Linked DNA regions of Homo sapiens: region 2 is linked to region 1. The links come from fine-mapping of genetic effects on gene expression. A gene starts in region 1. The other region holds a variant in brackets. All regions are shown on one strand. Distances are between the middles of the regions. Region 1 holds the start of LCMT1 (leucine carboxyl methyltransferase 1). Region 2 overlaps LCMT1 (leucine carboxyl methyltransferase 1).

Region 1 (4,479 bases):
ATAGCTACTGCACATTCAGCAACTTTAACTAAACAATATTCAGCCTGGAGGGAAGTCAAAACTAGCAATAATAATTTACTGAGGGCTTCACTTTGTGTCAGATCCTCTGCATCGATAATCTCATTTAATCCTGACACCCATAAAGGTTACCTTTATTATCACTGTTTTAAAAATGAAAAGACTAGGCTGGGTGGGGTGGCTCATGCCTGTAATCCCAGCACTTTGGGAGACCAAGGCGAGCGGATCACTTGAGTTCAGGAGTTCGAAACTAGCCTGGCCAACGTGGTGAAGCCCTGTCTCCACTAAAAATGCAAAAATTAGCTGGGCATGGTGGTGTGTGCCTGTGATCCCAGCTACTTGGAAGGTTGAGGCAGGAGAATCACTTGAACCCGGCAGGTGGAAGTTACCAGGAGCCAAGACAGCTGTGGCCAATAGCAACTGAAAGCCACAGAAGAAAAAGCTGAGTATAATCCACTCAAATTCACAAATTTCATAAGGGACTCTCTCTAAGACTTTAATACTTGTGTATTTATTAATTTAATCAATCACCACTTACATGGACTACATGCCAGACACTGCTCCAAGTGCTCTACTAATATTAAATATCATTTTTGTCCACACCCACCTATGATGCGTTATTATACTCCCCATTTTACAGATCAGGAAACTGAGCCACAGAAAAGTTTAGTAATTTCCCCGACTTTATACTGCCAGTAAGTGGCAACGCTCAGTTTGACAGAGTCTAGCTCCAGAATCCATGCTCTGAAAGTTTAGTCCCCAAGAACCTATAAAAAGTGCAAGGTTTAATCCAACACACTGGTTTTCCCCACTCTACAATCACTACGTGGCCTCAGCCTCCTTCTCCCACCTTTAAAGCATTTTTTGAGTTCCTCTAACAGTTCACACTCCTCTGAACACTCTCCTACAACTTTCCTATTTTTCAAGCCTTTTCTTCTCACTTTTTTTTTTTTTTTTTTTTGAGACATAGTCTCGCACTCTCATCCAGGTTGGAGTGCAATAGCGTGATCTTGGCTCACTGCAACCTCTGCCTCCCGGGTTCAAATGATTCTCCGGCCTCAGCCTCCCGAGTAGCTGGGATTACAGGCGCCCGCCACCACACCCAGCTAATATTTGTATTTTTAGTAGAGATGGGGTTTCACCATGTTGGCCAGGATGGTCTCGAACTCCTGACCTCGTGATCTGCCCACCTCGGCCTCCCAAAGTGCTGGGATTACAGGCGTGAACCACCGCGCCCAAACTCTTCTCACCTTAAACATCACTGACAAAATTACAAACTCTAATGGCACTGCCGTATTTGTCAGCACTCAACACAAAAAAATCATAATTATATATTTCATAGGTAATTATTTGCTTCCTGTCTCTCTTTTCCAACAAAGCTGTGAGTTCCAGTATGTCTGACACCATGTCTGTCTTGTTCTTGGTGTATTTCCACCATCGAATTCCTACTAACCACTGCAAAGTAAAGGCCTGGCACAAAGTAAGGTCTCAAAAAATTTTGTTGAATGAAAGAATAAATGGTGGACATTCAAGCCTCAAGCTTTCTCTTTCTCTGACACGTACCTCTGCTGGCTACGCCCCCATCCCCACCACCACACCCTTAACAGTGGAGACTTAGTGCGGTACTGGCTCTGCAAAGAGATATTACTTGGCTCTGGGTGGGTTATTTCCCCTCGTCATCCTGAGTTTCAGGTGCACAACAGGGATCACACCAACCCCCTAAAGAATGCAACCTACAAAAGAGAGAGAACCTACACCTCTCATCCTCGTAACCCATCGAGGCTGGAGCTACTATTTGCTTCATGTCTGTCTTTCCAGCAGCGTTTAGCTCCAAGAAGCCCAAGGCCTCGTCTGTCTGGCTCAGGGGCCTGCTCCCATCGACGATACCCAGGCTGGCCCCCTGCCTGGCTCACAGCAAAAGCTCAGAAACGATTCGTTAAATAAATGAAGCCCTGCTCCGTGCACTTCACAGGTGGGAAGCGAGGGTCGTGCGAGGCGGGGGCTGCATCCCTGCCAGCCTTGAGCGTATTCTTCAGATGCAGGCCCACCTCCCACCTAGGCCCGCGCCCCAGATGCCGGCCCCGAACCCCGCGCCCGACAGGCACCTCTTGCACAGGGAAGCATCTTCGCAGGTGCCGCGCACGCCCTCGTCGTCTGCGTCGCAGCTCGAGGTGGAACAGCAGGAGGTGATAGAGGATTCCCTCTGCCTAGTGGCCATGGGCGTGGAGGTTCCTGGGAGCTGTGTCCGCCAGGGACATGGAAGCGGGGTCGACGGGCGGCGGGGGACGGCGCGAGCCACAGGGAGAAAGCAACAGAAGAGGGTAGGGCCCTACCTGGCTCAGCTGGCGCGGCTCAGTGACGCCGCCCACGCCGGCTACCCCAGCAACCTCTCCGCTTATTGGCTCCTCTTCCGAGTCGCTCATTGAGCAATTCTCCTGCCCGCTCAGCCTACGAAGTTGCTCATTGGATAATTATTTTGGCACCGCCCACATAACCCGGAAATTTGACGATAGGAAAAAGAAACTAAACAGTAGGAGAGTATCGCAATCCTTTCTGGGAAGCGTAGTCTTAGGTGTCTGGAGAAGTCGCCCGGTTTCTGCTTGCTGGTCGCGAAATTTTATAGCTATAATTAACTCAGGGCGGAACAGCTAGCAGAATCCTCAGCGTTCGGGCAAAGGGCAGAGAATCCAGCCAGAAGCAACATGTGTAAGTTGTTACATTCAGTCCGGGCTCAGTGTCATTCAATTTTACAAAATTTTGTTGTGTGCTGACTCTGCCAGCGACTGTGCTGAGGGCTTTGCCCCCAAAATTGCCTTCGAAATGTAGTGAGGGGGGCGGGCGTAGTGGCTCACTCCTGTAATCCCACCACTGTGGGAAGCCGAGGCGGGCCGATCACCTGAGGTCAGGAGTTCGAGACCAGCCTGGCCAACATGGTGAAACACCGTTGTTACTAAAAGTACAAAAATTAGCCGGGCGTGGTGGCGGCCGCCTTAGTCCTGGCTACTCAGGAGGCTGAGGCAGGAGAATCGCTTGAACCCGGGAGGCGGAGGTTGCAGTAAGCCCATGTGGCGCCACTGCATTCCGTCCTGAGCGACAGAGCGAGACTCCGTCTCAAAAAAATAAATAAACAAATAAATAAAAGAAAGAAAGAAAAGAAATGTAGTGAGGGAAGTAGTGTGTGGAAAAGTAATACAATAGGAAGCCATGTAGCAGCGATCATAAATGAACTAGAGCTACCAGGTAGCAGCATCAATGGCTGAATCTCAGAAACACGATGTTCAGTGAAAGAAGGAAGTCTAACAACACTTTTGTAAAGTTCAAACCAAGTAAAACTAATGTTGTTTAGAGAAACGTACATATATGGTAAAATACTGTACAGAGAAGGCAAGACATGAGAAAAAAAAATAAAAAAGAATCAGGATATTGGTGATCTTTAGGGAGCCGGGAGGGTAGCACACAAGAGGGGGAGGGAGAGGCAGGGAAGGAGCACATAGACACATCCTCAGTTTCTCACGTGGGAGTGGGTTCACGTGTGTCTGTTTCATTATGAGGCATATTCAAGATGTTTTGGATTTATTTTGTACTAAATCTAGTACAAAATATATGTATAAATTCAAGATGTACTGGGGAAGTCGCCTGGTTTCTTGCTGGTGATGAAATTTTATAGCTATAATTAACTCAGGGCAGAACAACTAGCAGAATCCTCAGTGTTCGGGCGATTGGCAGAGAATCCAGCCAGAAGCAACCCTTGTAAGTTGTATATGTATAATAATGTTTAATATACATTATAAATTAAAAATGTCTTTGTATATTCCATTTTGTTATCTGTCAGTTGTTGGAAGCAGGAAACAGATATACTTTAAGAACTTTGAATTGCACTCATTTTTTTAAAAAGAAAATCAACAACAGAAACCCAGAATACACACCTTGGAGTGAGGTCAAATATCAAATGCTAGCTCAGTATTCTAATGGAGGCACAAGATCTCATTGATAGCCACAGTAGAAATGACAAGAGGGGAATGACTAAGGGTGGAGAGCTTTGCCAGGGGGAATGCTGATGGGATGAAATACACCATTTTCTTGGAGTGGTCCTTTGCCAAAAGGGTAATACAAACTATTGCACAAGCATCATCTCCCAGCTTAGCAGTGTCCACATTCCACGGGTGTTAGTGGATAGTAAGTGTTAACAGCAAGTACTATACGGTGTTAATCCCACAGGTCTGGACAGTGAGACTGGGGGTGACTGGAAGAAGGCGGAGGCAGATGGGTTTATACACTTTTGTTGTTGGATGAGCCTTTGATTCAAAATAGCTGGTGATTCAGAGGAATTTGGCCATCTTCCAGCTGACCTCCAGGGCCAGCTCATTCCATGTAAGTTCCTGGTTGAGGATCTGAAAGTTTATGACAGCGTGGAGTCTGGAGATTGCAAGCTTAGCCATCTCAGGCTAAATGATACCTTAA
Region 2 (4,000 bases), 27 kb before region 1:
GGGAGATTTGGTTGGCCTCGTGTTAATTGTAATTACATGGGGAGCCATAGAGCCTGTGATCTGTAATAAGGAAATGTATATTGCATTTTGCAGACTGTAGAACATGCTGGAATGAGTGCCAGGGCAAAAAAAAAGTTGGTGGGGGGCAGTGAACGGAAGGCAACACCCTAAAGTGAAGTCTCTGGCATTCAGATCTGCCATCTCTTGAGAGCTGGATCTGAATTCTCGCTGGCTTTTGTTCTTCTGGCCATGCCACACTTACTTGATACTGTGCAGCTTTCTCGTGACAATCATTGGAAAGTCAACCTCAAAATATTTACTTGGGAGAAGATCTTCATCCTGGGGAAAAACACACAATACTTTTTATTTCTTTACTCTTACATGTGCTGATCATCTTCCACATATCAAGCACTAGGCACCTAAGAGCAATAGTGTTTAAGGATTTTTAAATCAGGGGACTGATATGGGCAGACGTGTTTTTCGAATTACTCAAGAATAGATTTGAGGGAAGCAAGCACAGATGAAGGTAAAAAGTCAGGAAGCCAGAGGAGTCAGCCAGGTAAGAAGGTAAGGTCCAGGAAGGAGCCTGAGCTAGCAGGTGGCAGCTGGGATGATGGGGAGGAGCTGAGAGGTGCTTTGGAAGTAGAATATACTCCGTATTTTCAAAAGGCAGCTTGAGGCCAGGTGCAGTGGCTCACGACTGTAATCTCAACACTTTAGAAGGCTGAGGCAGGAGGATCGTTTGAGGCCAGGAGTTTGAGGCCATCCTGGGCAACACAGCGAGACCCTGTCCATGCAAAAAAATTAAAAAGTTTAAACGATTTAACAACAACAAAAAAGGCAGCTTGAGCTCCATTAGGAGGGTCAGGAAATCAATGTAGTAGGTTTTGACGAGCATTATTTTTTGGGTGAAATAGGTTAAAACAGCCAGTATCAAAAGCATCACATATATTAAGGGTATTATTTTCTGATATATTTTTCATTTTTTTTTTCTTTTTTTGAGACGGAGTCTCACTCTGTCACCCAGGCTGGAGTGCAATGACATGATCTCAGCTCACTGCAACCTCTGCCTCCCGGGTTCAAGCGATTCTCCTGCCTCAGCCTCCAGAGTAGCGAGGATTACAGGTGCCCAGCCTCTGATACATTTTTCTCTGTGATAGTGAAGTATGATAGATTAAAGAACAGGCACTCTTGGAGCTGGAGTGGCTCAAACCCCAGCTCCACCACTTACATGCTGTAAGGTCTTGGGAAAGTCAGTAAACTCACTGGGCCAGGATTTACTTGTTTGAAAAGTGAAGAAGCCGGGCACCCGTGGCTCACGCCTGTAATCCCAGCACTTTGGGAGGCTGAGGCAGGCGGATCACAAGGTCAAGAGACCGAGACCATCCTGGCCAACATGGTGAATGAAACCTCATCTCTACAAAAAATACAAAAAGTAGCTACTCAGGAGGCTGAGGCAGGAGAATTGCTTGAACCCGGGAAACGGAGGTTGCAGTGAGCTGAGATCGCGCTGCTGCACTCCAGCCTGGCGACAAAGCGAGACTCCGTCTCAAAGATAAAATAAAAAAAAAAAGAAAAGAGAAAAGTGAAGAAAATGCTAACACTTTATGGGGTTGTGAAGATTAATGAGGCAATACATGTGGGGCTCACAGGAAATGGCCTGACCTTAGTAAAATTATCACACGGGGATCCAAAGAGCTTGTGAGCTGTAACAATAAGGGAAGGTATACTGCGTTTTGAATACTGCACAACGTGCTGGAAAGAAGGTGCCAGGGCAAGAAGGAAACTAGGGCGGGGATCAAAGGAAAGCAGCACCCTAAAATGAGGTCTCTAGCATTTGAATCAACACGTGTGTGCCTTTATTGTTACAGACACAGGTATAGAGATGGGGGCCCTGGCTCAGGATGTAACATTTATTTCTTCTTGTGGCCTGCAGTCAAACAAATATGAAAGACACACATACACACACACACAACCACACACACACACGCACATGCGCACACACAGCCCTGGGTCACCTGGCTTGCTTGGTAGCTACACCCTCCCTACCCAGTCACGCACACATCATCCTATCATCCTAGTGTTCTCTCGGTGCCCTCCTCGCTATCCAGCCACCCAGTACTTCAGCCCTGCTGATGCCTCTGGAATCCCT[T/C]CACTCCTCCTGAGCTCTGTCACCTCCAGCCCAGACTGTCCCAGCACCCCCTCTGGTGTCTCAAAGCTGCACGCTGCTGTGTACTGCACTATCTACTGCAGGTGGCCTTCTGCAGCTCTGCACACTGCTAAAACTCAGCAAGAAACAAGGCACTCTATAGCCTGGCCCACCTGCCCAGCCTCTCCCCCTCTCCACTTATCCCAGAAATACAGAACTACTTTTTTAAAACAAAGAAGACTGCTGACATCCAGAACCTGGTGATGGCTTCGCTGGTAGAGGATGGGATGGAGGAAAAGGAAAGTTAGGGTGACACCTTGTTTCTGACTGGAGCAACTGGGCAGGTAAGAGAACCATTCATGGAGACAGTAACAAGAGATGGAGCACAGGTATAGAGGGACAGATGAATCCCGGGGGGGTGAGTGCGGCATAGCAGACCTCCTGTGGACAGCATGATGGGGGCAGAAATCACCAGTAACCATATCCTAGTAGGTGAATGACCCTTAAGAGCAAACATCAGGGCTGAAAGATACAGCACCCTCCCACATAAAGACCAGTCCTCTGCTGGAATCCCAGGGGACCCAGGCTGGGATTTATCTTTTTAAAACAAAAAAGGACGCCAAGTACAGTGGCTCACACCTGTAATCCCAGCACTTTGGGAGGCCCAGGCAGGAGGAGTGCGTGAGCCCAGAAGTTCGAGACCAGCCTGGGCAACACAGCAAGACCCTATCTCTACCAAAAATACAAATTAGCCAGGCATGGTGGCTTGCACCTGTAGTCCCCAGCTACTTGGAAGGCTGAGTTAGGAAGATGGCTTGAGCCTGGGAGGAGGAGGCTACAGTGAGCTGAGATCATATCACTGCACTCCAGCCTGGGAGACCGAGCCAGATCCTGTCACAAAAGAAAAAAAAAGAAAAAGCCATCCAAGGAGACTTGGGCTCATGAATCTGAGCTGATCACACTTAGAGGTATAGCCCATGCCTGCTGGGTAGGGTTATGCAGAAGCTATTTCAAGATACTTGAGGGGGGCCAGGTGCAGTGGCTCACGCCTGTAATCCCAGCACTTTGGGAGCCTGAGGCAGGTGGATCACCTGAGGTCAGGAGTTCGAGACCAGCCTGGCCAACACTGAAACCCTGTCTCTACTAAAAATACAAACTATTAGCTGGGCATGGTGGTAGGTGCCTGTAATCCCAGCTACTCGGGAGGCTGAGGCAGGAGAATTGGTATGGGTAGGGGGATATGGAAATAACTTTCACTAGGAATTTCAATTTCTACAACACCTTTTAAGAACTTTTACTGACAGCATATGGGAAGTTAAGGATCACCTAAAATTCCAGAAGACAATGAGAACAATTAAAGGTATATAAATGAAAGACAGCATAGTGCCCTGCAGCTCTTATGGGACTTCTTCCTTTTTAAAGAGCTTTCCCATGCATTAGAACCTTGTAAAACTTCTGAATAAGAAGTCAGAGCAGAGAAAGCTTACAAAAGGCACACCCGGAGCGCTTAAGAAAGACATCCTGTGGGGCGCGGTGGCTCACATCTGTAATCCCTGCACTTTAGGAGGCTGAGGGTGGTGGATCACTTGAGGCCAGGAGTTCAAGACCAGCCCGGCCAACATGGTAAAACCCCATCTCTACAAAATAGCCAGGCACGGTGGTGCGCATCTGTAATCCCAGCTACTCGGAAGGCTGAGGCAGGAGAATCGCTTGAACCTTGGAGGCAGAGGTTACAGTGAGCTGAGATCACACCACTGCACTGCAGCCTGGGCAACAGAGTGAGACTCTGACGGGTTGATGGGTGCAGTAAACCACCATGGCATGTGTGTACCTATGTAACAAACCTGCACA

The links. PIP is the estimated chance that this variant, and not a neighbour inherited with it, causes the effect.
Region 2: its variant is the best candidate, but not a certain one, in a credible set for the expression of LCMT1 in whole blood (INTERVAL, PIP 0.55).

What each region holds. Positions count from the first base shown.
Region 1 is chr16:25,109,641-25,114,119 of GRCh38, reverse strand. It overlaps LCMT1 (leucine carboxyl methyltransferase 1), which reads right to left and starts at 2,378. Exons shown (of 11, transcript NM_016309.3): 1 at 2,124-2,378. The coding sequence starts at 2,236. LCMT1-AS1 (LCMT1 antisense RNA 1) reads left to right here and starts at 2,565. Exons shown (of 3, transcript NR_120306.1): 1 at 2,565-2,724. RefSeq lists enhancers at 2,071-2,230, 2,321-2,650, 2,428-2,955.
Region 2 is chr16:25,136,510-25,140,509 of GRCh38, reverse strand. LCMT1 (leucine carboxyl methyltransferase 1) reads right to left here. Exons shown (of 11, transcript NM_016309.3): 4 at 263-339. Among named protein-coding and RNA genes, the nearest start is that of LCMT1-AS2, 11 kb to the left of the region's middle. The variant T/C (reference allele first, on the strand shown) is at 2,153.